Linked DNA regions of Homo sapiens: region 1 is linked to region 2. Evidence: fine-mapped expression QTL. A gene starts in region 2. The other region holds a variant in brackets. All regions are shown on one strand. Distances are between the middles of the regions. Region 1 overlaps RIMBP2 (RIMS binding protein 2). Region 2 holds the start of RIMBP2 (RIMS binding protein 2).

Region 1 (15,865 bases), 230 kb after region 2:
AAATAAAAGTTAAAAATAAAGAAATCTAATTGAACCCACACCTAAAGATATATTCATTCAAAAATATTGAGCAACCACTTTGCATCAAACGCTTTCTAGTTTCTGGAAAAAGTGATCTAAATCCATGCCCTTGGTTCTGGTAGAGAGTTGATAAATTAATGTGCAGGTCAGGTGGGGAAGTGAAAAGAGGCGAAGAGTGATAGTCATGGAAGAGCTGGTTTACATTTAGTGGTTGGGGAGACCTCACTGTGGGTGAGTCCTTTGAAAAGAGACCTGGATGAAGCCAGGGAGGGAGCTGTGCAGAGGTGCAAAGGTCCTGGGGCAGAGGGTGAATGCCTGCTGTGTCTGAGAAGTGTGTGGAAGCCCGAGGTGCAGGAGTAGAATGAACACGGGGAAATAGTTAGAAGATGAGGTCAGATGAGGGAGATGACTTGGAGCAGATCACTTAAAGCTTTTGAAGGCCAAGATAAGGACTTTGGCTCTTTCCTTCCTGAGCGAGATGGGAAGCCATTAGAGGGTTTTCAACAGTAGAATGATGTGATCTAACCTGAATTTTTAAGGAATTATATCTGCAACTCTGTAGAGACGTAGTACGCAAGAGGAGATGCAGGGAGACCGCACAGAGGTATACAAGTTAGCTATTGCTGTATCACAAAGCACCCTGATATGGTTTGGCTCTATGTCCCCACCCAAATCTCATGTTGAATTGTAGTTCTCAATGTTGGGGAAGAGACCTGGTGGGAGATGATTGGATCATGGGGGCAGATTTCTCCCTTGCTGTTGTGATGGTGAGTGAGTTCTCACAAGATCTGTTGGTTTAAAAGTGTGTAGCCCCTCCTGCTTCATGCTCTTTCCTGTTGCCATGTGAAGATGTGCCTGCGTTTCCTTTGCCTTCCACTGTAATTGTAAGTTTCCTGAGGTTTCCCCAGCCATGCCTCCTGTACAGCTTGAGGAACTGTGAGTCAGTTAAACCTCTTTTCTTCACAAATTACTCAGTTTTAGGTATGTCTTTATAGCAGTGTGAGAATGGACTAATGCAACCCCAAAATTGAGTGGCTGAGATTAGTGATTTGTGTTGATGTCTCATGGCTGTGTGGGTTGACTGGGCAGCTACATGGTTCTCACGTGGGGCCTCCACTTGGGTAGTTACGCTCAGATGGCAACTGAAGTTGCAATCATCTGCAGCCTTGGCTGGCTCTTTGCCTGCATGTTGTCCTCTCCTGGGATGGCTGGAAGAGAGGGGGCAGGCCAGACATTTCTCTCCTCATGTGGCCTCTCCACAGGCTAGCTCGGATTTCCTGCACTGAGTGTTTTTTTTTTTTTTTTTTGAATGCTGTTTCCCTCAGCACTTTGTATTTCTGATTCCTGGCTTATTGGGTCTCAGTTTCATGTTGCTTTCGTGGCCACCTGGTCTAAAGGACCAGAGGCCCCCTTGCTGGTCACTTGCACATCACTGGGTTCCATTTCTTCAGCGCACTCATCTTGTCTGCTTTAACTGTCTGCCTGTGTATTTGTCTTCCCTACCAAAATGTAACATCCTCAAGACAGCCTTTGTTCTAGTGCCCAGCACAAAATCTGGCATATAGTAGACACTCGATAAATACTGATTGATTGATGAATTAGTAACGGAGCAAGTGCACGCATGAATGAGTGAGGGGTTGACAGATTGCCTCGCTGAACCGACCGGCACTGCAGACACTTGCTGCCTTCATGGAGAATGACTAAGCAGCCAGAGGCCTGGAGTCAGTGCTGCCTTCATGGAGAATGACTGGGCAGCCGGAGGCCTGGAGTCAGTGCTGCCTTCATGGAGAATGACGGGGCAGCCGGAGGCCTGGAGTCAGTGCTGCCTTCATGGAGAATGACCGAGCAGCAGGAGGCCTGGAGTCAGGGTGCTTCTCTGCAGAGGTGCTTCTCTGGGGCTCACAGGTGACTGTATAAAGTCACATCTACAGATCAATCTGCAGTTCCTTTCTGGAATAGACAGAGACTCTCCAAGGGGAATAAACACAGGAGAGTTGGTGATTTCCGGCATCTCCTCAGCCCAGGCTGGTGTCAGACAAGGATCTCCCCACCGCGCACTCCTTGTTGCATTTAACCCAGAGTCAGTCCTCCTCTTAGGTCCTGGCACAGGAGTCTGATCAAAACACCCAGCACTCCTCTGAAGCAGGGTGCCTGTCAGAAGTGAGTGCATTGTGATAAAATAAACAAAATGCTTTTTATTCTCCAGCTTCTCAGATTCAAATAAAAAACGCATTGGGCTTTTTTACTCACTGCAAAAAAACAAAACAAAAAAAGCCTCATGTGTTTTTCATGTGAGTTTCTACTGCCTGATACACAAGACATTCTGGGTCCTCAGCCTCTCCCCAGCTCCTGGGTAAAGGGACTGCAACCGGTGGTGCTTCGCTCACAGCCACGGCCAGAACGCATCTCTCCAGCCCCTTCTCCCATGGCCCGTGAGACAGTTCTGTTCGTCGGATGCGGTAGAGCGACAGCTGCTTTTATTTTAGAGTCCTGGCAGGGAAGGACGGTTTAACTTCACACTCACAAGGTTTCTAGATTCAGAGAGCTCAATCTAGAAGCAGTTAGAGGCAGGGACTGGTGGACCCACCAGAGGCTGTGAGCAGAATCAGTGATTACGGAGCCCAGGGAGCAGAAGGCAGGTGAGAAGCTTCTGGACAGAGGGGTAGATTCAATCAGCCTCCCCACAGTCATGTCCACCCAGAACTGGGGCGCGGGGCCTAATTTGGAAATAGTGTGTTTGGAGATGTAACTAGGTGAAGGTGCGGTCGCACATCAGGGAGGGCCCTCGTTCAGTGACAGGCTTTGGAAAGAAAGGAGAGGGGAGTTTGGATAGAGACACAGACGCTCAGGGAGGAAGCCACGTGTGGATGGAGGCAGAGATCAGAGCCATGGAGCGCCCAGGAGCCTGGCAAGATGGGGAAGAGCCTGCCCTGGAGCTTTCGGAGGGTACATGGCCCTGTCCACACCTCGACTGAAGACTTCCGGCCTCCAGGGCATGAGAGGATGGGTTGCTGTTGTTTTAAGCCCCCAGTGTATACACATCCCAGTCTCTCTGTACTCTGCTCAGTGACATCGGGGCAGTCATGGTCTGATGGCCTGGGCAGAACAACTTGAGGGTCCCACTCCTCAGGGAGAGGACAGCAGTCCCAGTGTGCAGAGAAGTGTGCGGTCCTCCTTGGCTCCTCTGGGTGGCCTGCAGGTGAGAGAAAGGTGTGCCTGAAGGAGGCCATCACAGGCAGGAAACCATCATGTGGTCACTTTCTGGGGAGCGGGCCTGCCCAGCGCCATAGCTGCTGGGGGCCCGACATAGAAGGGGGCTCAGGGTGATGGGAACGTGGCCTTTCATGAGGTATCACTGTGTGCTGGTCTCCCGTGGACAGAAGCATCCCTCCTGCAGGAAGTGGATGGAGCCTCACCCCTCGCAGCCTCCTCTACCCCAGAGCTGCTCAGCAGGGCTGCTGAGACCGGAGTGAGGACAGTGAGATGGTGGTTTAGTCCTTTTTCATGCTGCTAATAAAGACATACTCGAGACTGGGTAATTTATACAGGAAAGAGGTTTAATGGACTCACCATTCTATGTGGCTGGGGAGGCCTCACAATCATGGTGGTAGGTGAAAGTCATGTGTCACGTGGGAGCAGGCAAGAGAAGAGAAGGGAATGAGAATCAAGAGAAAGGGGTTTCCACTGATAAAACCTTCAGATCTTGTGAGATTTATTAACTACCACAGAACAGTGTGGGGGACACCGCCCCCATGATCCAATTATCTCCCACCAGGTCCCTCCCACAAGACATGGGAATTACTGGAGTTACTATTCAAGATGAGATTTGGGTGGGGCACAGCCAAACCGTATCACATGGCTACAGGCACGGACGTACTCTCTGCCGTGGTCCACAATGCTTTACAGTTTAGGTCCAATGAGTCAGCGGCAGAATCATCACCCACCCTAGGGGGACGTTCCCGTTGATCTCAGTAGCATGACCTAATTCAAAGACTTTGGGCTTTTAGTTAGACCAGTCTGAGTTCAAATTTGAATTTGATGATTAACTAGTTGTTTACGTGTGATCAAGCTAACTAATTTCTGAGAACCGGGGTGTTCTCTCATCTTTAAAGTGGCCATAAAGTACCTTTCTAGATGTAAGGGTTCAAAGCATAGAATGTGCCCAGTGATCTAACATAGTGGCTGGTGCTGGAGAGGTTAGTGATCAAGAATTGCTAATACCGTGAGCAATTTCATTGATATACACCCTCAAAGGAATCTACTAGAATAGACAGAAGGATAGCCAGGTACCATGCCAGATGCTTGGAGTAAAACGAGGAGCAAGTCCAAGGTTATTTTTGTTTTCATGAAACTTACCTTCTACTGGGGTGGGAGGAGCTCAGAAAAAAAATCAGGTCATCCAGCAAATAGATAAGAATTTCAGAGACGGAGGAAGACGGTGATGAGCCAGGGTGACCTGGAGGGAGAGGGGAGCGCAGGGCACCCTGCACATGTCTGTTAGGGGGTGACACTTCAGCTGAGGCCCACGTGATGACAGTGGCCTGACCAAGCAACATCCCTGGGGAAATCTCACAGGGGCAAGAGGAGACAACGGGCAGCACTGAGGCGGGAGCCACTAGGGCATGTACCAGCGTGGCTGATGGCTTGGTCTGGGGCAGGTGTCCAGAGGCATGAATCCAGGCAGATGGGGAGCAAGTGAAGCAGCCCCCCTCATCATTTCAGGGCATGTAGAGGGCCAGCTGTGTTCCCCCAAATGACGCCCAAGTCCTAAATCTATGTATCTGTGAATATGACCTTATTTGAAAATGAGTCTGTCCAGATGTCATTAATATAAGGTCATCTTGGAGTAGGGCAGGCCCTAAACCCAAGGACTGTTGTCCTTATAAGAAGAAGAGGCACAGAGACACCCAAGGGGATGGGAGTGAGGTGTCTTCTGGTCAAAGATCACCAAGCATCGTGGCCACGCCAGCAGCTGGAGCGGGGCATGGGGCGGCTTCTCCCTCAGAGGTTCCACGAGAGGATCCGGCCCTGCCGACACCTGGATTTCAGCCTTCTGTGCTCCAGGGCTGTGAGAGGACACTTTCCATTGTCTTAAGCAGAAGTGCCAGTTGTGGTACTTTGTGACCCAGCGGTCACAAATGCATCCTTTTCCCACATAAGGCCAAGTGCTCTGGACAGCAGGGAAGAGGGTGTGTCCTGAGTAACCAGCACACAGGGCTGGAGTGCAGGGTCCTGGAGGCCTCCGTGGGTTACCTGACTCCTACTTTGCTCTTTCTTTTCTTTTCTTTCTTTTTTTTTTTTTGAGACAGGGTTTCACTCTGTTGCCCAGGCTGGAGTGCAGTGGGGCAATCTCAGTTCACTGCAAACTCTGCCTCCTGGGTTCAAGCGATTCTCCCTCTTCAGCTTCCTGAGTAGCTGGGATTACAGGTGCCTGCCACCATGCCTGGCTAATTTTTGTATTTTGAGTAGAGACGGGGTTTCAGCATGTTGGCCAGGCTGGTCTCGAACTCTTGACCTCGGGTGATCTGCCTGCCTTGGCCTCCTAAAGTGCTGGGATTACAGGTATGAGCCACTGTGCTTTGCATCTTTCAAAGCACGTTTGCATCCACCATCTTACCGTGAGACTGTGGAGGCGGGGGCAGAGCAGTGCAGGGAGAACCGTGGTGGCGGGGAGGTGCCAACTTCTAGGCCTGATGCTTGCTGGGGTGTGGAGTGGGCTCCAGGAGGGCCAGGGCGGGGTCTGTCCTTCTGAACCGCTCTGTCCCTGTCCCCAGCGCAGTGATACAGAATGAGCGCTCTGTCCCAGAGTGTGGGATGTACTCACAAGGGGCTGAGTCATCTCCGTGAGCCTCAGTTTACCCATGCATCACAAGCTTGCATTTTTATATCCTCACCCGATCAACGCTTGTCTTTCCCACTGGGATGTCAGCCCCACACAAGCCAGGGCCTCTCAGCTTTGTGTCCACTGTGTCTCCAGTGCCTGTCGGGCCACCTGGACGTAGTTGGTGCTCAGGAAACACTGGACAGAGGAGAGAAACAGAAAGGGCGGATATCCGGGTAAATGTAACAGGCTAGACCAGGCTGTTTTTCTCCTGGTAGACTCTTTCATGTACATAAATGACACTTCAACGAAAATGTAGAACACTGTGATGGGGTTTCAGGTATATAGATGGAGCATGTAAGAATTCCACTTGGAATGGCAAGTTTTAATTCTGAGTAGATTGTTTAAATTTAAATATGTATATTGAGTTCCCTGGGGCAACCACTAGGAGTGACATAAAAACATACAGAACAGCACTCCATGGAGACATTAAAATTGAAAACCAGGCTGGGCATGGTGGCTCCCGCCTGGAATCCCAGCACTTTGGGAGGTTGAGGCAGGCAGATCACCTGAGGTCAGGAGTTTGAGACCAGCCTGGCCAACATGCTGAAACCCCGTCTCTACTAAAAATACAAAAATTAACCAGGCGTGGTGGTACACGCCTGTAATCCCAGCTACTCAGGAAGCTGAAGCATGAGAATTGCTTGAACTCAGGAGGTGGAGGTTGCAGTGAGCCGAGATCACGCCATTGCACTCCAGCCTGGGCAACAGAGCGAGATTCCATCTCAAAAACAAAACAAAACGAACAAAAAGAAACAACAAAAAACAAAAAGAAGGCAGGAAAGGGGAGATCAAATAATGAAAATGGGAGGGAACTAACAGAAGCCAAATCGAGTGGCAGACCTAAATAAAACTTAGTGATATTTACATGAAACTTAATTCCTGTGCAGGTCACTTTGTTTTTTTGTTTTGTTTTGGTTTTTTGAGCTACGATCTCACTCTCTCACCCAGGCTGGAGTGCAGTGCGTTATCTAGGCTCACTGCAGCCTCCGCCTCCTGCGCCCAAGCCATCCTCCTGCCTGAGCCCCAGTCCCCTGAATAGCTGGGACTACAGGTGTTTGCCACCACATTTGGCTAATTTTTTGTATTTTTAGCAGATATGGGGTTTTGCCATATTGCCTAGGCTGGTCTCAAACTTCTGGACTCAAGCAATCCACCCGCCTCGGCCTCCCAAAGTGCTGGGATTACAGGCGTGAGCTGCCGCACCTGGTTCTGTGCAGATCCCTTTGAATCTAACATTTAATCTCATTCTTGCGACAACCTAGGAAGGACGGTATTTTTTGTTGCCATTCAATAAACGTGGAACCTGAGGTTCAGAGAGGTACCTAACTCACCCCAGGGCACACAGCCTGTACGTGTTGGAAATGGCATTGAACACAGGTCCAGCTGATAAGATCCCCTCTACTTGGCTGGCCAAAATCCCGGGCTCACAGCCGGGAGCCACTGGGGCAGGACAGAAACTGTGTGTGAGAAAAATAACCCTCCCAAAGCAGCATGGATGAATGTTGCCACCCCTGCATCTCTAGGATTCATCAGGGCCAGAGGAGAAGGAAGGAGGCTTTAGGATCAAAGACCAATCAACACTCAGGAAAATCTTTCTCTCTCTCTCTCTCTTTTTTTTTCCCCCAAAGGAACTCCTAAGGATCCATTTTTTTTCCCAGTTTGAGAAACTAAAATACTTGGGCTGAAATAGACCTCACTGAATTCACATGAATGTTTTTCACACACATTCTCATTCTTAATGAGTGTGACTTCTGTGACTAGGACAGACAGTCGTGATGCCATGAAAACAAACAGCTTTAAAGACCTTGTCTTTCTTGCTTTTGAAGACGTGGGTTCTGTGAGTGCTTGCATTCCTTCTGCCAGGTGCTGGGTGAAAGCAAATCGTGTGTACATAAATGCTTCATTATTTCTACCACGCGTAGCAGATCCCACTAATGTGACATTCAAAGTGTCACCGTTAGCTCCTATTTGGGGAAATTGGTTTTTCCTTAATTTCTT[C/T]GCTCAGGCAAGGCAGCATCCAAGCACAGGACAAGTCCACGTTTGATCTGACGTTGAGGAGATAATTCAGTTTGCTTCAGGTTCGTTCGTTCCGTGTCACATCCGAGCTTTTCCCTGGGATAGCGGCACCCTGACATTTGTAGGCAGCTTAAGTGCTGGCGTGAATGTCGACAGTCAGCTATAAATATCGCTGCTTTAAAAATAAATCCTGCCACAGGCAGAGCGTTTCAGACAGGCAGTTTTGGCCGTGGCGCATAATCCTGAGTACTTTTCAGATGTGAAGCCTTCCCATGAATGACAGCACGTGCCCTGGGAAGGTCTCTGCGCGGGGAGGCGGAAGCCCGGTGTCAGGGTGTGGTGGGATTCTGTCTCTGGGCGAAACCCGAGGTTTTCAGACTCCCTTTGGGAATCCTTGGGCCCCTTGCACTCCCAGGAACCGAGAGACTCCTAGCTGCTTGTGGAAGTTGTGAGAAGGAAAGTGCGATTGCCCCCCAGAAGTGCAGATGGCTCTGTGACAGAGGCACGAACAGTGTGCGTGGTGGCCTGAGAACTCTGGAAGGAAGGAGGCGGAGTGACTTCAGGGCACTGCAGAAAAGGTTCTCATGTGTACTGCCTTGAAGAGAGTCCCAGCAAACATCAGCACATCCCGCAAATATGAGAGAGGTCCTGGAGGAGGCCTCTTAGACAGCAGAGAGCAGAGACAGTGGAGGGAGAGTGAGCTGGGCTCGCTAGGTGCAAATCCTGGCTTGAGCCTGGCCTAGCTGGGCAAACTTGAACACGTTGCTTAACCGCTCTGGGCCTTGGTTTCCTTCTCTGTAAATGGGAATAAAAATATCACCTGCTTCAAGCGTTGTTGTGCCGATTAAATGGGTGATGTGTGTTCAGTACTTAGCATAACAGTACTTCTAGAACTTAGTAATCCTCAGATGTGTTTAGGTGAGCATGTGGAGGCTGATGTCTGGAGCTGGGCTGGGTCTCAGGCAGGTTCTCTGGGAAAACTGTGCCAGCAATGTGCATACCGGAATAAGAACACCATTTTCCCACCATTTGTAGGTGGTGATCTGTGATAAACACTAACGTGGGTTTTGATTGTTGCTACACACAGGGGGCTCGGGAGCTGCTGTGTAGACCGCTTCCCACTTCGCTCCCCACCCTCCCACTGAACTCTGACCACATCTCCCTCTTTTATGGTGTGGCTGAGTTCCGGGGTGAGTTGGCATTTGGCCTCTCTTTTAGTCCTGTGGACTGGCCGGTAAGCCGAGGGGTTTACTGCAGCCCCCACTTGGCCGATTCTGTTGCTGAACTCACAGGTCTCAGCCTTCACACCACAGGTGCCCTGCAGACGAGATTATTTTCCTTGAATAAGGTTGTTTATGGCCAGTGACTTTTATCTTAAGATGTTGTTTCCTGGCCCTTGGAGAGAAATGGCAGCTGGAACTTACCGAACCTGCCTTTGCCCCGTGATGTTATAACTCTTGAGGTAAACCAAGCACCTCTATCTTCACCCCCATCTCCCTGTACCCCGATTTATACTTCTGCTGCTGATTCATTAAAGTAGCTATCAGCCCGGGATTGTCTGACAGCTGGGACCAGAACAAGCTTTCCTAGTTGGGAAGAAGCATCAAAACCATTTATTTTTTAATAGGAAAATTTCAAGCAAACTAAGGGATAGTAAAAAATCCAAGCTAAATTGTAGATAAGTAAACAAAAACATTATCAGATTGTACATTTTCCTGGACAGATTTATTTTCTGCTTTGTAGGTGGTCAGCAAAATCAACATTTCCGTGAGTTTTTTTTTTAACTTAGAATTGTCACAGTAAGTCTGTGAAGCAGGTTTGAGTCCAGTTGCAACAACTCAAGTGAAAGAAACAGAACAACCCCCTCAACATTACTTAATTCACTTTTCTTTTTTATCTTTTTTTTTTTTTTTTTTTGAGACAGAGTCTCGCTCTGTCACCCAGGCTGGAGTGCAGTGGTGCAGTCTCGGCTCACTGCAACCTCCGCCTCCCGGGTTCAAGCGATTCTCTTGCCTCAGCCTCCCGAATAGCTGGAACTACAGGTGCCTGCCACCATGCCTGGCTAATTTTTTGTATTTTAGTAGAGACGGGGTTTCACCATGTTGGCCAGGATGGTCTCGATCTCCTGACCTTGTGATCCACCCTCCTTGGCCTCCCAAAGTGCTTAATTCACTTTTAAGACACGCATTTTGAAAGAGTGATAGAAATGTGTCATCAATTTGGAGTTGGCTTCATCCTTTTCCTTCAGTCTACCGGTCAGACTTCAGTCAAAAAGCAGGAGCCAGCCAAGGTATTTCAAATGGAGGGACATTAATACAGGGGATTGTGACACACAGGGTGGAAGAACTAAGAAGCCAGATGGCTGCATTGTGAACCTGGCATCACCTCTAAGGCTGAAGGGACAGTGGGGGTGATGATGATCTCAGAGTCAGGAGCAGAGACCGTGGGTTAGAGACAGGAGATGGAGCCTCTACAGGAGACGGAGCCTCTACAGGAGACAGCTCGAGAGGCAGAGAGAGGGGTAGAAATCCCTGGCTTCCCTCCCGCCGATGCTGCCTGTTGACTGACCACCCAGAAGCAGAGGGCGAGGGCGTCTGGGAAGTGTAGCTCTTTCTGATACAGAGCAAAACAAGAGAAGGAGAGAGAGTAGATCTGAGAGACCTGAGGCAGTTGATTGGCACACCAAGGTGAGATCTAGGCTGGGGTGCAGGGTGACCCAAAGCCAAGATGTTGTGGGATTCCATCCTGCCCTCATCCAGGCGTACACACACAGATTCCCACCATTCTATCCGATGCGTATTGCTTATATGTAGGCTGTAAAAGTAGACAAGCCACCGTCTACCAGTTGTTTCCATTATTTCAGAGACAAGGGTAAAAGTTACTTGAAGACATTGTAAAATATAAGACATGAAAGAATTTAATTGTTTAGTTGTATGCATTCACGTGGGCTCTTAGCTATCCCAGGGTCGTTCAGAAATCCCTGCCAGGCTGTTTAAGCTCCATTTTCTCAACTCCCCATGCTAGCCGTGAATTCTGTAGGAGTCAGCTCTCTGGAACTTTCCAGAAAGCAGAGCCAAGAGCCCATCCACCAGTGTCTATACATGCATCGGTTCTTCTCAGCTAATTTGTCTGCCTCTGGTGAAGCAATATATTTCTGCAGATTAGAAGGGAAATCTAGTCTCAGTTTCTCACAGTAACCCCTCTGTATGCTGTCTTCTTGATTCCCCTTATCTCTGCAGACCAAAGCCCAGGGGAGTCCCCAGTTTCTGCTCTTCCCTGACCCATCTCTCATCCTCCCTGAGGCAGTGAGCATGGAATGGAGCCCTCAGGATGGGAAGTGGGAGGGGAATGGAGGAGAAATAGAGGGTTAGTGATAGAAAGAAACATTGATTAATATCTCAGCCTTGCAACACTGATTTTTCTATAGATGTTTCAACAGAGACATGCACACTGGCTACATTTAGAAAAGTAACGCTGTGCAGAATGAATCAGTATGTCCTCATGCCAGGATGGATGGATATATTTAGCATGTCCGTGTGTTTGTGAGCCTTGTCCATTTCTCTTTTTTTTGGCTGGTTCGTAGACCTCACTAATATTAAACTTACGGCCCCCACCACCCCCTGACTGAGCTATCTTTTCCCCTACCATCCACCTAACACCACGAATTTCAGCCTTTGCAGCCAATATCTCTCCTATTTTTGGCTTAAACTTTTTTTTCGCCATCCACTTCACTCTACCCTCATCAGTCTCAAAGCCCATCTCCGAGAGATGTTTTATTATAGCTGCGTGACTAACTCCGCCAGTGTGATGGCCTCCAGGAGAACCAGCTTATGTCTCTGGTTCACAGTTTTGACTGTGGGTTTGGTGAAATGTGGAATCTTTGGTAGTGAGGATCCAATCTTCTCTAGGCTCCTCAAGTGTTAAAGTCTAGTTTCTAGACAGCCACAGGATGAATCCTCCACTCAAAATCATTGCTTTAATTCCACTTAGAAAATGTTAATTAGACTCCTGTTGCCTGTGGAGTGCACACACGGAAATGGAGCCATTTCTAGTCCAGTTGAGAAAGTGAGAATTACATGGAATTAGAACGGTACCAAGCAGGTTACAGCATTGCTGCAGAGTCATGTGGGAGGCTGTGAGGGATGGAGAGGGGAGTGTGGGCTGGGGGCGTGGGACAGATGTTTTAGGCGAGAGGCCTCACCTTTGCTGTCATTGATTCTGCCTCACCATGTGTCAGAGACTGTTCTGGGCCGGGGGTGCACCAGTAGACAGGGAAACAAGTCCTGTGATCCTGTGGTTCTCATGGACAAGGGTAGGGAGTGGGATGGAAAGGATGACATAGAATAAACACGTAAATAAAATAATCTCTGGTCACTGGTCAGGACACTTGCCATGTCTTTGTCCGTTTTGTGTTGTTATAAAGAAATACCTGAGACTGGGTATTTTGTAAAGAAAAGAAGCGAATTTATCTCACAGTTCTGCAGGCTGTACAAGCATGGCACCAGCATCTGCTCAGCTTCTGGTGAGGCCTCAGGAAGCTTCCAAACATGGCAGAAGGCAAAGTGGGAGCAGGTGCATCACATGGTGAGAAAGGTAGCAAGAGACAGGGAGGAGGAGCCAGGCTCCCTTAAACAACCAGCTCTCGAGTGAACTCAGAGCAAGAACTCACTTATCGCTATGGGGAGGGCACCAAGCTATTCATGAGGGCTATGCCCCCGTGACCCAGACACCTCCCACCAGGCCCCACCTCCAACACAGGGGTCACATTTCAACCTGAGGTTTGGAGGGAACACATCCTAAACCCCATCACGCCGTGAAGGGCTGGCCACGTGGTGATGCAGGGACAAGCATGTCGGACAGCAGGAATGGCACTCGCTAAGACCTGGAGTTGGGGATGACCTTGACGTGATCATGGAACTGAGCGAAGCCAGTGTGGCAAAAGCACAGTGAGGAAGGGGCAGAGGTGAGAGGTGAGGGCAGAGAAGAGGCTGGATCACAGAGGAGCCTGTTGGCTGCAGCCAGGAGTCTGGATTTTGTTCCCGGTGCAGTTGGCAGCCTTTGTGCTCTTGAAGGAGAATGGCTGTGGGGCAATCTCTGGTGCAGCCAGTGGCTCTGGAGGAGCTGTCTCGGGGCAGAAAGGGCTCTGAGGAGCTGGTTATGGTCCAGGGGAGAGGAGGAGCTGTCTCGGGGCAGAAAGGGCTCTTCTGCCGTAGTCTACCATAGTCTAGGGGAGAGATGAGGTGGCAGCGTTGGACACAGGAGAGAACGGCAGACATGGGTGGGGGGAGTTTGGGTGCACATTTTTTTAAATTGGGAGGTTTTTTTTTTTCTCAAAGATCTGGATGTTGAACAAGGCGGGAAAGGGGGCAGGAAGTCAAGAATGACTGTCAGCTTTGCATCTGGAGGAGCTGAGGGGATGATGGTGTCCTTGGCCGAGATGGCACAGCTTGGGGAGGGAACTTGTTTGAGGAAGAAAATCAAGAATTCTATTTCGGACAGGCTAAATTTGAGCTTCCTCCTGTACATCCATGTGGGGATAATGAGTAGGCAGTTGGGTATGAGTGGCGGGGGGGCGGGGGACGGGGATGAAGGGTTCATTTGGAATTATGTGGCAATTAAAACCTCAAAGCTGGCTAAGATCACCTAAGGAATGGTATAAATAGAGCCGTGGCCCCTCCAGGATTTAGAGATCAGCGGGAGGTCATTGCAGAGGTCAGGGGGAGAGACCAGGTCAGCGCGCCCCACGGGGGCCAGAGTCCAGGGCATGTCCAGGAGGAGCAGCCCTGGTGTCGGGTGCTGCTGAGGGATTTGGTCCAGTCAGGGCACGAAAGTGGCCATGGGTTCGGGCTGCAGGGACTCCTCGGCTGCCTTAGTGGGAGAATCTCAGCCGAGTGACAGGAGGGAGGCTGACTGGAAGGGCTGGAAGAGCGTGTGAGATGGGAGGCAGATACATGGGCAGTGGCTGGAGGGGGATGAGGGCTTTGCAGAAACAGGTAAGATTTGGAGAGATAGATGCTGAAGCCAAAACAAGCCCCAGCAAACCTTGTCCTCCCAGCCATGGCATCTGTGATGAAACTGAGGCTGTCTTCGAGGGCCGAGTGCTTCTCCCGCTCACGCCTTTCTGACAGCTGCTTTGTACGGACTTGGTTCATTAACCGTAGAAATGCAAAGACTTCTTCCCTGTACTTGTTTCCATCCATCTGATCTATAAACCCTCATCTCACTGGCACCCCGAAGCAAGAGCCCAGCATAGCATCCGCCACCCCTTTATCCTCAGTGACTCTGAGGCCGCAGGACCACGCCCGGAGCTGTTTCGGTGCCTGGTGAATCTACCTAGCGAGTCCTGGTAGGGAAGGTGGCACCCTCCTCTCGCTAACAACTTCCTTCCCAGAACTAAATAAAGATGATACAGTCTGCCTTTGGCAGTGCCCCCTTCCAAAATAAAGAGAAGCACAAAATTAGCCAGAATTAAGCCAAAATGGCAGAATTAAGCAGCTGCACAATCGGCCACCCAGGCCAGGTGGGCCGCGAGGAAGTCGAAAGCTGCTTCTCTGCCCTGGCCCCCGTAGTGCTCCAAGATGGCAGTGGCTGGTGTAAGTCATCTCAACCCAGAAGTGGGGCAGTGGCCGGGAGCAGACTGGCTGTGAGTTCTGACATTCTCATCGGCCATGTTCCAGCTGTGGCTTTTAGCCCTTGCTCAGCTTCCCTGAGTCTGTTGCTCTGCTGGGATGCAGTGACCACAGCACCCAACCCTCAGCCTCAAATGACACAGTGCCTGGGCAAGCATAGTGCCCTGCATATAGTAGGTGCTTAATAAATGACAGCAGCCACATTCCGATTTCTCACCGTCATTTTACCAATGCGGCGGTAGCTGTCCATCATCCTGTTGGTGCAGCCCTGGTTGCCTCATGAGTCCCTCCCTCCCACCCTGTACCTGGTGTTTAAGTGACATCACACAGGGCTACACACGTCCAGTGGGAAAGGGTTTTCTCCTCTTGGGACTAAAACATAACACAGAGAACTTAATAGATGCCAAGGAAAATTCAAAACACCTCTATGAAGTGGGTGTTAATTAATAATCAACATTAGTTATTTCACTAATCACTAACCAATTGAAAAAGAATAGTGTTGAAAAATTAATCCAAAAGAAGAACATGGAGAACAGAGAGGTTAAGTAACTACTCTAAGACCACACAGCGGGCCAGTATCAGAGCTGGGATTTGAGCCCAGGTGTTCAGGCTCTTTAATGGCTTTTGCTGGCCTGAAATGCTGGAAGCACTTTTCCCCCAACCTTCCCTGCCAGCCCCTGATGTGGGCAGCGTGGAGAGCTCCAGGGGCTGGGAGGAGGCCCATGTGGCTGGAGAAGGGGGTGGTGGGGACAGCAGTGGGACTGAGCTCCAAGAGGCCATGAAGGCGGCAGTTTGATTATTTGGCATCTGTGCCGAGTGACCCATTGTGGGGACAGGGACACAGTGGGGCAAGGTGCCTGCTCATGTTCCAGGGGAAGGAGCAGATAGCAGGCAAGGGAGCCGGCCAGTGCACTGGGGATGAGGATGCTCAGGAGGAAAATAAGGCAGGTGGAGAACATGGTGTATCCAGGAGGGGCCGGGCGGCCACCAGGCTTCAGTGCGAAGTGGCATCTGGGCAAAGGCTGGAACGTGAGAGTCAGGCTAGCAGGGAGAGCAACACGTGTGAAGGTCCAGAGGCGGGCACTGGTCTGCTCTTTAGAAACAGCGCGAAAGCCAGGGTGTTACAGCAGGGCATGAGAGGCAGGCAGATGGTGGTGGCAGCGGCATCAGGAGGCAAGAGGCAGTCAGGTGGCCCTGTGACAGCATGCCGCTTTACTCCCCACCGAGGGGCTTTCAGCTGGGATGCGACATGGGGCCAGGGGTCCACTTCGGGGGGCATCGGGCTCCTTCCGGCCAAGGACACCTAAGTGACAGT
Region 2 (15,865 bases):
GCCAAGGTTGTCCTCCAGGGTTTTTATGGTTTTGGGTTTTACATTTAAGTCTTTGATCCATCCCGAGTTGATTTTTGTATATGGTGTAAGGAAGGGGTCCAGCTTCAATCTTCTGCATATGGCTAGCCAGTTCTCCTAGCATCATTGATTGAATAGGGAGTCTTTTCCCCCATTGTTTTTGTCAGCTTTGTCAAAGATCAGATGGCTATAGGTGTATGGCCTTATTTCTGGGCTGTCTATTCTGTTCCATTGGTCTATGTACCTGTTTTTATACCAAAACAGTACTATGCTGTTTTGGTTACTGTAGCCATGTAGTATAGTTTGAAGTCAGGTAACGAGATGCCTCCAGCTTTGTTCTTTCTGCTTAGGATTGCCTTGGCTACTCAGGCTCTTTTTTTTATTCCATATAAATTTTAAAATAGCTTATTCTAGTTCTGTGAAGAATGTCATTGGTGGTTTGATAGGAATTGCATTGACTCTGTAAATTGCTTTGGGCAGTATGGTCATTTTAATGATATTGATTCTTCCTATCCATAAGCATGGGATGTTTTTCCATTTGTTTGTATCTTCTCTGATTTACTTGAGTAGTGTTTTGTAATTTTCATTGTAGAGCACTTTGACCTTCCTGGTTAGTTGTATTCCTAGGTATTTTGTTCTTTTTTGTGGCAATTGTGAATGGGATTGCCTTTCTGATTTGGTTCTTGGTTTGACTGTTGTTGGTGTACAGGAATGCTAGTGATTTTTGTACATTGCTTTTGTATCCTGAAACTTTGCCGAAGATTTTTATTAGCTGAAGGAGCTTTTGGGCTGAGACTATGGGGTGTTCTAGATATAGAATTATGTTATCTAGGCCAGGTGTGGTGGCTCATGCCTGTAATCCCAGTACTTTGGGAGGCCAAGGCAGGCAGATCATGAGGTCAGGGGATCAAGACCAGCCTGGCTTACATGGTGAAACCCCATCTCTTCTAAAAATACAAAAAATTAGCCAGGTGTGGTGGCACATGCCTGTAGTCCCAGATACTTGGGAGGCTGAGGCAGGAGAATCACTTGAACTCGGGAGGTAGAGGTTTCAGTGAGCCGAGATCGTGCCACTGCACTCCAGCCTGGGTGACAGAGCGAGACTGTCTCAAAAAAAAAAAAAGGTTATGTCATCTGCCATCAGAGATAGTTTGACTTCCTCTCTTCCTATTTGGATGCCCTTTATTTCTTTCTCTTGCCTGATTGCTTTGGCTAGGAATTCCAGTACTATGTTGGATAGGAGTAGTGAGAGAGGGTATCCTTGTGCTGGTTTGTCTTGTGCTGGTTTTCAAGGGGAATGCTTCCAGATTTTGCCCATTCAGTTTGATGTTGGCTGTGAGCTTGTCATAGATGGCTCTTATTATTTTGAGGTATGTTTCTTCAATACCTAGTTTATTGAGAGTTTTTAACATGAATGAATATTGAATTTTATTGAAAGCCTTTTCTGTGTCTATTGAGATAATCACATGGTTTTTGTCTTTAGTTCTGTTTATGTGATGAATCATATTTAGTGATTTGTGTGTGTTGAAACAACCTTGCATCCCAGTGATGAAGCCTACTTGATCATGGTGGATTAGCTTTTTGATGTGCTGCTGGATTTGGTTTGCAAGTATTTTGTTGAGGATTTTTGCATTAATGTTCATCAAGGGTATTGGCCTGAAGTTTTCTTTTTTTGTTTCTGTTTCTGTCAGGTTTTGGTATCGTGATGATGCTGTCCTCATAGAATGAGTTGGGGAAGAGTCCCTCCTGCTCAATTTTTTGGAATAGTTTCTGTAGGAATAGTAGCAGCTCTTCTTTGTACACCTAGTAGAATTTGGCTGTAAATCCATCAGGTCCTGGGCTTTTTTTGGTTGGTAGGCTATTTATTACTGATTTAATAAATCAGAGCTCATTATTGGTCTGTTCAGGGAATCCATTTCTTCCTGGTTGAGTCTTGGGAGGGTGTATGTGTCCAGGAATTTATCTGTCTCTTCTCAGTTTTCTAGTTTGTGCACATAGAGTTGTTCATAGTAGTTTCTGATGGTTATTTTTATTTCTGTGGTATCAGTGGTAATATACCCTTTGTCATTTATAATTGTATTTATTGGACCTTCTCTCTTCCTTTTTATTAGTCTAGCTATTGGCCTATCTACCTTACTTATTTTTTCAAAAAACCAACTCCTGGATTAGCTGATGTTTTGATTTGTGTATGTGTGTGTGTGTGTGTCTTGATTTCCTTCAGTTCAGCTCTGATTTTTGTTATTTCTTATCTTCTGCTAGCTTTGGGGTTGATTTGTTCTTGTTTCTCTAACTCTTTCAGTTGTGATGTTAGGTTGTTAATTTGAGATTTTTCTAACTTTTTGATGTTATGAATACTTTTAGTGCTATGAATTTCCCTCTTAACACTGCATTAGCTGTGTCCCCAACATTCTGGTATGTTTATGTTTGTTTGCATTAGTTTCAAAAATAACTTCTTGATTTCTGCCCTAATTTTATTATTTACCCAAAAGTCATTCAGGAGCACGTTTTTAAAATTTCCATGTAATTGCATGGTTTTGAGCAATTTTTTTAGTCTTGACTTCTATTTTTATTGTGATGTGGCTTCAGAGTGTGTTTGGTGTGACTTCAGTTCTTTTGAATTTGTTGAAGATTGTTTTATGTCTAGTTATGTCATTGATATATGCCATGTGGCAATAAGAATAATGTATATTCTGTTGTTTTGGGGTGGAGAGTTCTGTAGAGGTCTATCAGATCCATTTGGTCCAATGTTGAGTTCAGGTCCGGAATATCTTTGTTAATTTTCTGCCTTGATGGTCTGTCTAATACTGTCAGTAGAGTGTTGAAGTCTTCTACTATTATTGTATGGCAGTCTATGTCTCTTTGTAGGTCTCTAAGAACTTGCTTTATGGATCTGGGTGCTCCTGTGTTGGGTGCATGTGTTCTTAGGATAGTTAGGTCTTCTTGTTGAATTAAACACTTTACCATTATGTACTGTTGCCTTTTTTGATCTTTGTTGGTTTGAAGTAGGTTTTTCTGAAATTAGGATTGCAACCATTGCTTTTTTTTCTGTTTTTAATTTGCTTGGTAGATTTTCCTCCATCCCTTTATTTTGAGCCTATGGGTGTCATTATGTGTGAGATGGGTCTCTTGAAGACAGCATACCATCGAGTCTTGCTTTTTTATACAACTTGCCATTCTGTGCCTTTTAGATGGGGCATGTGGCCCATTTACGTTCAAGGTTAGTATTGATATGTGTGGATTCAATCCTGTCATTGTGTTGTTAGCTACTTATTATGCTGGCTTGTGTGTGGTTGCTTTATAGCAACACTGGTCTGTGTGTTTAAGTGTGTTTTTGTATCAGCTGGTAGTGGTCTTTCCTTTCTATATTTAGTGCCCTTTTCAAGGTCTCTCATAAGGCAGGTCTGGTGGTAAATTCCCTCAACATCTGCTTATCTGAAGAGGATCTTATTTCTCCTTTGCTTAGGAAGCTTAGTTTGGTTGGATATGAAAATCTTGGTTGAAGATTTTTTTTTCTTTAAGAATGTTAAATATAGGCCCCCAATCTCTTGTGGCTTGTAGGGCTTCAGCTGAGAGGTCCACTGTTAGCCTGATGGGGTTCCCTTTGTGGGTGACCTGCCCTTTCTCTCTAGCTGCCTAAAAAAGACATTTAAGCCTTCAATAATAACTTTAAAAAGCCAATTTTGATCATCATGCTAGAGGAAAGAGTTTTCTTTCTGTTCTCTCAAAAGAAAACAAAATTATAAAATCATTGTCATCTGGAGAAGTAATCAAAGATTACACAAATAGTGTTAAAAACAAATATTATACAAATATTATAAGGTGATAGGTAGCCCAATTACCCTGATTTTATTTTTATACTTACATGAATGCATCAAATTAGCACATGTACCCCTAAATTATGTACATTTATCATATATCAATAAAATTGATATTATAGTAGAGTCTTAGGCAGTTAATTACAATAAATATATGCTATTTTTCTGGATTTTGTGATATTTGTGGGATTTGTCAACATTTTAACATCTGGAATTTGTTGTGATTTATTTTCTTATTCTCGATAAATGATCATTTGTGTATTTTGTATTGGTGTTCTTTGTGTTTTATTTTTCTTAACTAGGGCTCTCCACATTATATAAACTCCAGGCCCCACAAAATTGGACCCACAACTGAATCTGAAATATGTGTTGCAAATATGTTATCTCAGTTGTAGCAAATCTTTTGGTTTTATTTGTGGCATTTTCCCACTGTGCAGAAGTTTACATTTCCACGTAATCAGATTTAATCAGCATTTCCTTTTATTGTTCCTGAGTTTTCTTAGAAAGTCCTTCTTCATTTGACAATAATGAAAAAAATTCATAAGTTTTCTAGAATGTCTAATTTTTCTTTTATATGTTTGAATACTTGATTTATCTGGAATTAACTTATGTGTAAGAACTTTTTCCCTTAATTATCCTGTATTCTGACAATTATTTATTGAGTATTCTATATTTTCTTATTGATTAGAAATACTATTTTATCATATATTAAATTCTCATATGTAATTGGATTTGTTTATGGACCACCCAGTTTGTTCTATGGGTCTGTCTGTTCATGTACCATGACAAAACAATTTTATTTATATATTTATAATATATTTTAATGTCTGGTAAAACTAGTTTTCTTTCATTACTTTTTCTTGCCTTCAATAAAATGTCTGGGTTATACTTTTGTGCTTATATTTCCATACTAAGTTTAGAATCAGCTTCCAGAGGTCTGGAAAAAAATCTCGGCTTTATGTTGATTGTAATCATATTAAATGTTAAGGTTGATTTCAGGAGAATTTTATAAAATTTAAGGACCCTCTCCAAGTGTGGGGTTGGCTTTTCTTTTTGCTCCATTTTTCTTTTATTTTTTCCTCAGTTTTCTTCATATATATCTTACACATTTCTAGGCATGCCTTTCTTTTTGTATGCTATTATAAATGGAATTTTTTTCCCCTTCCATTATACTTCCTAACTGATTATTGCTTTTATATAGGAAACCTATTGACTTTTGTATATTATTTTTGTTCCTCCAAAATAATATGCAATAATATACAAATATATATTTGCTGGGAACCTAAAATAATACACTATTCTATTCAATTATGGAATATATCTAGAGCTCTCCTTTTTTTTTTTTTTTTTTGAGACAGGGTCTTGCTCTGTCACCCAGGCTGGAGTGCAGTGGTGTGATCATGGCTCACTGCGACCTTCACCTCCTGGGCTCAGGTGATCCTCCCACCTCAGCCCCCGAGTAGCTGGGACTACAGACATGAGGCATCACACCTGGCTAATTTTTTGTATTTTTCATAGAGACAGGCTTTTACCATGTTGCCCAGGCTGGTCTCAAATTCCAGAGCTCAAGTGGTCCTCCCGTCTCAGCCTCCCAAAGTGTTGGGATTACAGGTATAAGCCACCACGCCAGACCTATTCTATCCTCTCCTATTCAATTCTTATTTGTAACAGTTTTTCTGTGATTGGTTCATCTGGGTTTCCAGGTAGATCATCATGTCATCTCCAATACTGCCTAGTTTTTAGACCTTTCTGACTACCCTACTACTTGTAAACAGGGCAGGTTTTTCCGAGAGATGTTCCTAGCTGAGTGCTGCACTTATGGTGAACACCCAGCTTCAAAGGCTACTTGAAAGGATTTAGGGGGCTGCACTTACCCACCGGCCTTGGAATTGGCCTCATAGAAAACTTGCTGTGCTTTGTGGAAGCTCGGGCCCGCAGAGGTGCTGATGGTCAGTGTCAGCACAGACCTATTATTAGCTGTCCAGCGACAGGAGATTCCACTTTAATGCTGAAGCTTCAGAACTACGTTGCAAACAAAATGACTGGCATTTTCTCAGACAGCAGTTCCAAGTGGAAACTGTCTAGTTGTGCTGTCTCCATACGGAGGGCTGGAAAACTGTGAATGGCAATTATGCAGCTTTGCATCTCACACTTCCTGACATCTGGCAAACACTCGTTCCATCCAGGACCAGATAAAACAAATGGTGCCTTATTCACAGGAGTCTTTAACGGCCTAATAGACCCGATGAGTAGCAATGCCTTTGTGTGGCCTGTGTGCAGTCCAGAGCTAGCAGGTTGCCTATGACAAGCGCTGGAGGGGGTCAGCACTTTTGATTCCATCACCGAAACTGGTCCCCACCACAGCAGCTCATTTTTCAGAACTGGCTAGCTCCTTCCTGCTGGGTTGAATACATCCTCATTCTTCACAGGCCCAGAATGGCTTCATCTGGATTGTTAGTTACCTATGAAAGTCTCTGGTTTGTTACATTTTTTTCAGTATTTTATGCACAAAATTTACCTAATTTTTGTGAAGTTAGAACATGACACCAAGAAATGGAATCCTGTATTATTTTTCTTTTCTTTCCTTTTTTTCTTTTCTCTTTTTTTTTTTTTTTGAGGCAGAGTCTCACTCTGTCCCCCAGGCTGGGGTGCAGTGGAGCAATCATAGCTCATTGCAGCCTTGACCCCCCTGGGCTCAAGCCATCCTCCCACCTCAGCCTCCTGAGTAGCTGGGACCACAGCCGTGCACTACCATGCCCAGCTAAGTTTTGTATTTTTTGTAGAGATGGGGTCTCACTACGTTGTCCAGGCTGGTCTTGAACTACGAGGCTCAAGTGATCCTCCCACTCTGGCCTCCCAAAGTGCTAGGATTACAGGCATGAGCCACTGTGCCTGGCCCTGCATTCTTTCTATGATTTGACCATGTGTCTCTTGGCAGCTACAGTCAACTCTTTGGTCTCAAGTTGTCCAGCTGAAAAAGTGGGCTCCTCACGCCGAGACCCATGACATGCAGCCCCACACACATGGGATACTGCAGACGACAGTGCAGCCATGACAGAGACTCAGTGGGGCTGGTGCAGACAGCAATGGCCCTGTATGGGGAGAACCCAGCATCTTTGAATGGAAACATTTTTTGCAGCTTATTTGTTTTCGAACCTTGGCTTTTTGGCCTAAATGTTCCATGGCATTCCTTAACAATTAATTTCCTCTCTGCTGAGAAAACAAAGGTGGAGAGTCATTTTCATGCCACTGAATGACCTTTTAAAAGATTGAATCCTTTCTAAGGGGGAATAGCTTTATTTCCTTCTGTCAAATATTTCATTTGTCCCCTAGAAGAGCCCCGTGAAGTAGACATTATGTGATAAGCAGACACGATCGTTTTACAGATGTGGGAAAAGACTGACCTGCTCCAGGCCACACAGATGGAGTCAGGAAGGGGCAGACTGGGTCAGTGGGGCCCAATTCACAGGCACTTTCTACGGTCTTTTCATATGTTTTTATGGAGGTAAAGTTCACATCACATAAAATTAACCATTTTAAAGTAAACAATTCAGCGGCATTTAATACATTCACAGTCTTGTGCAACTGCCACCTCTCTCTTGTTCCAATGTGTTCTCACCACCCCAAAAGGAAACCCCACTCCAGTAAGGAGTCACTCCTCATCTCCTCTCCTCCTAGCCCTCAGCAACCACCAGTCTCCTTTCTGTCTCTATGAATTCGCCTATTTTGGATATTTCATAAAAATGGGCTCATACGATAGATGGGCTTTGTGTCTGGCTTCTTTCCCCAGCATGGTGCTCTCAAGGTCCATCCATGTGGTAGCAGGAATCACATACTCCATTCCTTTTTCCTGGCTGAATAATATTGCATTGTATGGATATGCCACATTTTGTTTCCCCATTCATCCATTGATGGGCACTTGTGTCATTTCTACCCTTTGGCTGTTGAGAGCAGCGCAGCTGTGAACATGTGTGTACGAGTATCTGGTAACCAGTCCCTTCCACGATTTTCTGCAGTCTTGTAGTTTCTGTGACCTGATAACTCTGCTGCAGGGTGAAAAGGAATCATCTGTGGTTTGCCACCTACTCCTGGATACAGCACGTATCTCTTTGTTCCATGCACAGAGGCTGGGGCCACTCTACACGGGGCTTGAAAGAAGCCTCCAGTCTTGCAGCCAAATTCAGAGGCATATAATTCAGAAGCCTATCCGGGAGGCCAAAATGAGTCCTGACTGGGAAAACTCGCTGGACCCGTCTGCCACAGTGTTGAAAAAGTTGTCTTGGGAAGAGGTTTCCTCTGGCTGTCTAGGTTTGAGACCTTTGCGATTCCTTTAAGATCACAAGCAAAACCACGGTGATGGTAGGATGTGTTGGTTTTACTAAGGAGCCCATTTTTTAAAAAACTTGTAAAGTGAGCCTTAATTGGAGAAGCAACAGAAAGCACCTCGGGACAAGTCCTTCCTTTTTGTACAAAGGACCCGTGGTGAGCCCTTCCTTGGAATTCTCGTGTCCTACACTCGAGTCTTGTCCCTGCACAGGGCCATCATTAGTAGGAGCCCTCAGAGCCTCAATTAGGGTATGTGGAGCCCAAAATACCAAAGGGGCTTTCCTCCGCATGAGCTATCTTATTCAGCACCTTTCAGTAACAAGCCATGGGATTTTTACCCCAGGGAAGGAAGCAAGTGTGTGAAGTCCGTGCGTGTTTCCCAGGGTTTTTTCCCTCCTGCACCACCCGGTTGCTAGGTAGCGGGTATATCTGTGCCACCACCTGAAGTTCTGTGGGAAGGGGGAATCTGCGGGGCCACTGGAGGCTTGGGGTGGGGAGGGGAGCCGGACAGGAGAGCAAAGACCCAGGCAGCTTGGGTCGCTCCTCTTCATCACTTAATTCTGAGGGCGCTTGAGTTTCTGAGCTTCCTGGAGTAGAGCCCAGGGCAGCTTTTACTTTGATGTGCTGATCGGTTGCCTGTCGGTTGCAGGAGACCCCCGGCCTCCTGCAGGGAAGATCCTGTGCTGTTTTCCCAGGGATGGAGAGAAAAGCACCAACCCCAAGCCCCGCATGGCTGAGAGCTGTTTGCCTCCATCTCTGTCCGAGCTTTTCACCACAGCTCTGTGAAAGAAACTGGCAGTGAGGGGTATAGCCATCTTGGTGTGTGTATGCGCACGTGTGTGTGCATGTGTATTTGTGTGTGTGTGTGTGTGCGTTCAAACACTGACGTTTCAGAGGCTCTGGTTACTGCTGCATGGCGGATGATCCTCTCTCTCTCCCTCTCTCTCCCTCCCTCTCTCCCTCTCGACCTGCTTGCCTGCCTGCAGAAAACTAATGAATCATGTCTAGCTGAATGCAAGCAGTGCAGACACACCAATGCCCTGCAATGTTGACTGGGCGCCGCCTCTGCCTGCCTCTCGCTCCCTGTCTCTCCCTCTGCTGCTCCCTCCCTCCCTCTCTCCCTCTCCCCCTCCTCCCTCCCTCCTTCTCTCCCTCTCCCCCTCCTCCCTCCCTCCGTCTCGCCCCCAGTTTGTAATCTGACACAGTACACTGCAGTTGTCTCCGAGGTGAACCTCCGGAGCCTTGGCACAGCTCGCTTCTAAAGGTAGGCTGAGATTTATTTTTTTCTCCTAAAAATAGCTTCCCGTCTCCCCTCGCCTTTCTGCACCCGAGCTGCAGCGGCGTTGATCACAGGGGGTTAGCCGGAAACTCTTTGCCCAGACAAAGTTTATCTTGCAGCGGATGGAGAATGCCCTTCAGCGTGGGGTCCGGGGGCGCTGGGTGCGGGGAGCAGCGGCTCGCCCTGCTGGCATGTCGGTGCTGCTTGGAATTCAGGATCGTCTCGGAAGGGAAGGGCTGACGGGCTTCTTCCTGGGTGCCGGGTGTCAGCTGCAGGGGTGCTGTGGCTCTGTCATGGCCCCCACCCCAGGCTTTTAAGAAAGGCCCCTCCAGGCAAAGTTTGGCACCCGATGGACACGGCCCCGCTCGCCTGGGGAGTGCGCCCCAGGCTTCTCAGACAGCAGCGGCTCAGGGCCTGGACTTGTCTTCTTGGGGGCGGGGTGGAGGGGGGGAAGGGGACGTGGGACAAACACATCAGAGTCCCCAGCTCGGCTCAGGTGCAAATGCACAAAGCCCGCAGGCTGCGCCCAGGAATCTGTCAATTCACGTCCCATGGACTGACTTGAATAATGTGTTTGTCAAAACAGATGTTCCCCGGCAGAGTGTGTGCGTGCATGCGTGTGCCTGTGTGAGCAGTGTGCGCGGGCTGCTGGCCGGGGGCAGACTCTCCCAGTGGAAACCGTATTTCACCGGGAAAGGCAGCGCGTACGGGACCACCCGCCCAGGAGCTTAGGTCTGGGTAGGTCCAGGTGGGGGCCCGGACATCTGTCAGCAGAGGCCTCGGTGGAAGCAGCCTCCCTCCTGTCCCCGGGGAGCGCACGCTGGCTGAGGTCGGGGTGGCGGCTGGCCGGAGGGAGGGAGGACTGCTTCACCTCCCGGCCTGGTCACTGGCCCCGGGGGAGGCGGGGGTGCTGGCTCCGTGCCTGCGTGGCCTCTGGGTCCCTGGAGGTTCTTAGGGTGAGTGAGGAGGGAGGGAAGGGGACCCTGTCCAGCCCCATATTTCTCTCACGGAGGAGCCCTGAAGGAGACTCTGCTCACAAGGGTGAAAACCCCACTTCGTCCAGGGAAGGGAAATGTCACAGATGGAGCAGGCCTGAGAGGAGGGAGAGCGGCTCCCTCTGAAAATGGAAGATCGGTGGGAAGAGGAGGTGTCCGGGCTCTGGGCCCTGCGGCAGGCCAGGCTGCTGGGCTCTGAGCAGGAGTGGGCAGGGGAGGGGAGCTGGCGTGCAGGCTCACTCACCCGGTTTCTAAGGGGAACAGTGGGGGAAGGCTCTAAAAAATCACCACCTCCCCCACGCACATGGCCCCTCCCTGGCTCCCTCCCAGCCTTGCTGGGCTGTCCGGGAATCAGCTTCAGACTCATCCCCCGCTGGGCTGTGGGGTCTTGGCTTGTCCTGTGAGACATGATCCCAAGCTCCCAGTGGGATGGGCAGGGTCTGACCGGCTCCGGAGGTTCCCTGGGGGCACGGTGTGAGGGGAAGGCCGGCGGGCACCCCTTCTGCAGTGGGGGGTGGTGGGGCGTGCCTGGGGTCGAGGGCTGTGCCGTGGCCATATGGCAGCCGCCTGGGGCCCAGAGTGGAGCCCTTCCAGGTTATTTCAGGGAAGGCGCTGGCAGCGGCTATTCCCCCGTGCCCCTTCCTAGAGGATGGCAAACTGGGTCAGGGAGAGGGTGGCACTGCCCACGTGCCCGGGAGACAGGAAGATGCTGGCGCTATGGGGGCCGCCCCCCACGCAGGAGGCAGGCGCCACGCAGCCCTCCCCGGGGCATAGCAGCCGGCCTCCCCCATGCTGCAAGCCCGGCAGAGAACCCCAAGCCTGCAGAGTCCGGGGGTGGGCGTGGGTGGTGGAGAAGCCTCCCAGGTGAGGCCAGCGTGCAGCCGGGCTGAGAGCTCCTGGCCATGAAGATGAAAAGACAAGCGGTGGGCCCTACACTGTAGCTTTCAGTTTCATCTCTTTGGCCCCATGCACTGTTGGCGCCTGGAAGAGACCAGCATGTGCTCAGGGGGCGGGAGGAGAGGCAGGAGCTGGCTCTTTCCTGAGCTTGCTTCGCTTTCCATTTCAAATCCACCCCCTGCCACGTTTGTATTTTTGGAGTCTGGTTGAAGTTTTAATTGGAGCAGCGATTCTCACACGTTGGTGAGCGCTGGCATCCTGGCGGGTGGGTTAAGGGGCTACAAATCTCAGAACCTCTGATCCAGCAGGTCTGGGGAGGAGCCGGGAATCCGCATTCCCACGCAGTCCCAGGGGAGGTGGAGGCATCCAGGGACCCCACTTTGAGGATCCTTGAATACAGCGTGACCAGGAGGCGCTTTACGCATCTCTGGGGCATGTTGCCAGCTCTCTGTTGGCCTTTGGCTGAGGTCATACATGAAGCTGAGTGCACGCCTCATAGGTTGGTCTAGACCCGCAAGTGCCAAACCTCAGGGACCAGAGGGCCTGACCCGGGAGCTTCCTTTGTGTCCGGGAGTCTCCCTAGGGCACGGCAATGAGCATCTGTTCCAGGTGGGCGGAGACTTGCCGGCTGAACGTCTCAGTGTTTCCCACTTCTGCCCCAAGGTTTGGAATCCGCGTGGTGCTGGGAACCCGGGGGAGAACCGGATCGGCTGTGCTGGTCTCTTGTTGATCAAGCAGAGCTGCTGATTCCAGAAAACTCTGTTCTCCACTTACCTCATCCCGTGTAGATAGTGGTAGTGCATGGCTTATGTCCTCAGTTTCTCTTTTGACTTTCACCCATTTGAAAAGCTGTCTGATCCCCTATGGTGTGGGAGGAGGCTTGCAACCAGCTGAGGACACCTGCATCTCTTGTTGGTGATGCTGGTGCCACCACCCTTGTGTGCAAAGGGCAACCAGCTGAGGACACCTGCATCTCTTGTTGGTGATGCTGGTGCCACCACCCTTGTGTGCAAAGGTTTCACTGAACCATACTCCTCAGTCCTTCCTTCCTTCCTTCCTTCCTTCCTTCCTTCCTTCCTTCCTTCCTTCCTTCCTTCCTTCCTATCTTCCTTCCTTCCTTCCTTCTTTCCTTCCTTCCTTCTTCTCTCACTCTTTTATTCCGTTTCTTTCAGTCTCTGTCCCCTTCTTCCCTCTCTTTCTCTCCTTTTCTCTCCCTCTTTGTTTTTTCTTTCCTTTTCTCTCAGTCTCCCTCCCTCCCTCATTCCTCCTCTCCCTCTCTCAGTCTCTCTCTCTGACTCACCCCTGCTTGTGTCCACCACTGGGCCACGCTCCTGTGTGGATCCATCTTTCCTTGAAGAAAATCTCCCAGATGACGCCCTGCATAAGAAGGACATTTCCATCAGTGAAGACCATGCGTACTGCGGTGGCTGTGCGATTAGAACAGACCTGAAAGATCCCCATCCCAGTGTGGCTGTCGTAGCTGCTCAGCTTGAAGCTTTAGTCTCACGTGTTTAGTGACGATGGTGTGGGTGAACCCACTGTGCTGCCTGGAGTGTGAACGTCCAGCACATACAGTCATGCATGGACATGATGCTCGATGATAATAAATGACTATGTTACTGGCTTATGGATTTACTGTAACTTTTATCATGATTTTAGAGTGTATTGTTTCTACTTATTAAACAAAAGTGAGCTGTGGAACAGCCTCCGGCAGGTCCTTCAGGAGGGATCCGACAGCAGGCATGGCCATCGTGGGAGGCGACGGCACACCTTGTGTTATTCCCCTGGAGACCTCCCAGCGGGACAGGACGTGCAGGTGGAAGGCGGTGATGTGATGATGCTGGCCCCGGGGAGGCCTAGGTGAACGTGTGTGTTTATGTCTTAGCTTTTAACAGCAAAGTTTAAAAAGCAAACAAACAAAAAAATCAAATAGGGAAAAGCAAATAGATGAGGATATAAAGAAAGAAATTATTTTTGTACAGCTGTACAATGTGTGTTTTAAGCTAAGTATTATTACAAAAGAGTCCAAAAGGTAAAAAATTAAGAAATGTATAAGGCAACGAAGTAAGCTGAGGGCAGTTATGGAAGAAAGAAGAATATTTTTGTATAAATTTAGCGTAGTCTAAACGTGCAGCCTCTGTAGGGTCTACAGACACGTACAGGAATGCCTGGGCCCTCACGTCCACTCCTCACTCACTCACTCACCCACCCAGAGTCACTTCCAGTCCCGCAAGCTCCATTCATGCTAAGCGCCCTATACAGGTGCACCATGCTTTATCTTTTAGATCTTACTTCCGCTGCCTCTCTTCTATGATTAGATGCAGAAGTACTCACCATTGTGTGGCAGTGGCCTACAGTACTCAGTACAGTCACGGGCTGCACAGCTGTGAAACCGGAAGCAATGGGCTTGCCCATCGAGCCAGGGCGTGGAGGAGGCTGTGCGGCCCGGGCGTGTGTGCAGTGTACCTGTGTGTGAGGTGCGCTCAGTGACGAAATCACCTAATGAGGCATTTCTCCGAACGCATCCTTGTTAAGCAAGGCGTGACTGCATTTATCTTTGAACAAGCCAGTCACACTGTACTAGGGTTTGTGGGGTTAGAAGTATTCATTTATGAGGTGGGTCCCTGAAAAGTAACATTTAATCTAAATCTATTTTAACTTTTTTGTGGTTATTTTCATATGTGTGAGAAGCAAATGCATCTGTAATGAGAAACCTTCACACAATATAAACTTTAAGTCCAAATGACGTCCTAAGTAAATCACTCCAAATAGCATCTTCAAAAAATGGAGAAAAAAGACAAAGCACACTCATTTTAAAAGCCCAGAATAATCTTGATACAAAACCCCAGTGAGGCCATCAGAAGGAAGAACATGTGCTGGCCAAACTCTCATGGTCACAGACACCACATTCTAAGTCAAGTATTAGTAAATTAGAAAATGGAATCCAGCAAAACGTGAAAAGGGTAATAGACATTTCTTAATTTTTCCCTGGACAAGGAACCTCAGAAAATGGAGGAAATTGGGGCTTCTCTGGATTTGTGAGAGGCTGGATAGCTTCTTTTTTTTTCTTTTGAGACAGAGTCTTGCTCTGTCACCCAGGCTGGAATGCAGTGTCATGATCTCAGCTCACTGCAGCCTCCGCCTCCTGGGCTCAAGCGATTCTCCTGCCTCAGCCTCCTGAGTAGCTAGGATTACAGGCGTGGGCTACCACGCCCGGCTAAGTTTTGTATTTTTAATAGAGATGGGATTACGCCATGTTGACCAGGCTGGTCTTGAACTCCTGACCTCAGGCGATTTGCCCACCTTGGCCTCCCAAAATGCTAGGATTACAGGCATGAGCCACTGTGCCTGGTCAGATAGCCTCTTCTTAATGCTCACCTACACGAGAAAGGGAGGTGGCTGTCAGGGCTCCATGGGACCCCACGTGTGACGTGCGGGGCCTGTGAGGATTGGGAGCAGTGGGGCTTGTGGAGGAGCAGGTAGAGCAGGGAGAGGCCTGAAGACGTCCATTTGGGATATTCTCATTTGTTGGTGTTTTGTGGTCTGTCATTAGTAGGTGCTGGATAAGCACTTGCTGGAGAGACCCAGTGTGGGAGATGAGGGGGGCTCTCTCCTTGGCCTAGCTGTGTGGACAGGTCCTTCCTGTTGGTGCTGAGCCTGGGGCGGGGGAGGTGCAGCACCTGCCACTTCTCTATCTGTGTGGGACCCAGGAAGGCAGGGCATGACCTATTCATTCAGCAAACCTTTAAGCACCTGCTAAATACTGACTCACATTTTAGGTGAGCAGTGAACAAGCTAGAGGAGGGTGCTGCCCTCATGGGGAGCACACATGTGTGTGTGTACGTGTGTGTGTGTATGTGTGTGTGTGCGCCTGCGTGTATGTGTGTGTGTGCATGTGTAAGACAACGGGCAAGTGAATGAATAATCACTACACCAGAGACAGCTGCCCTGATGGAGTGCCCAGCAGAGGGTTCCAATGGCTGATGTCAGGGGCCGCACCTGGATGATCTGGGAGGGTCTCAGGGAGGAGGTGGCGTTGAAGCTGAGACAGGACCCTGAGAAGGAGCCAGAGGTGCAGACACCTGGGAGAGAGGTTCAGGCCCCGAGGGCAGAGGGAGGAATGGATCTGCGAGCTGCTCGGTGGCTTTGATTCTCATAGGTATGTGCAGAAATTGCTCCTTGGGTGTTTTTGGAGCAGCTGGGACCACAGGGGCTGCAGAGCCAACCCCTCTCCTGGAGACCCTCGGTGTCCACCCGTGAGCTCCCAGGGATACCCGGAAACCAGGGGGCCAGTGGTGTACTTTTTGTCATTTCCATCCATGGGGAGTTGGTCATGGTGTCCCTTTGGGTGGAAGGTCCTCCTTGCCCCTCCTATGCCTCTTACCGCGCTCCTTCCCCTGCCTCCCTCCTGCCCAGTGCTACCAAAAAGAAAGCCCATTTGGCCATTTTGGCAGCAGGGGCCTCCTGAGGGGGCCTGGGGGTGCGTTGGTACAGGTTCCTCTGATTAAACGCTCCTGGTGCCACACCCAGTGTGT

The links. PIP is the estimated chance that this variant, and not a neighbour inherited with it, causes the effect.
Region 1: its variant is fine-mapped to the expression of RIMBP2 in B cells (Fairfax 2012, PIP 0.92).

The regions. Positions count from the first base shown.
Region 1 is chr12:130,484,097-130,499,961 of GRCh38, reverse strand. The region is part of intron 4 of RIMBP2 (RIMS binding protein 2); the gene reads left to right. Among named protein-coding and RNA genes, the nearest start is that of PIWIL1, 150 kb to the right of the region's middle. The variant C/T (reference allele first, on the strand shown) is at 7,904.
Region 2 is chr12:130,709,780-130,725,644 of GRCh38, reverse strand. It overlaps RIMBP2 (RIMS binding protein 2), which reads left to right and starts at 9,346. Exons shown (of 23, transcript NM_001393629.1): 1 at 9,346-9,423.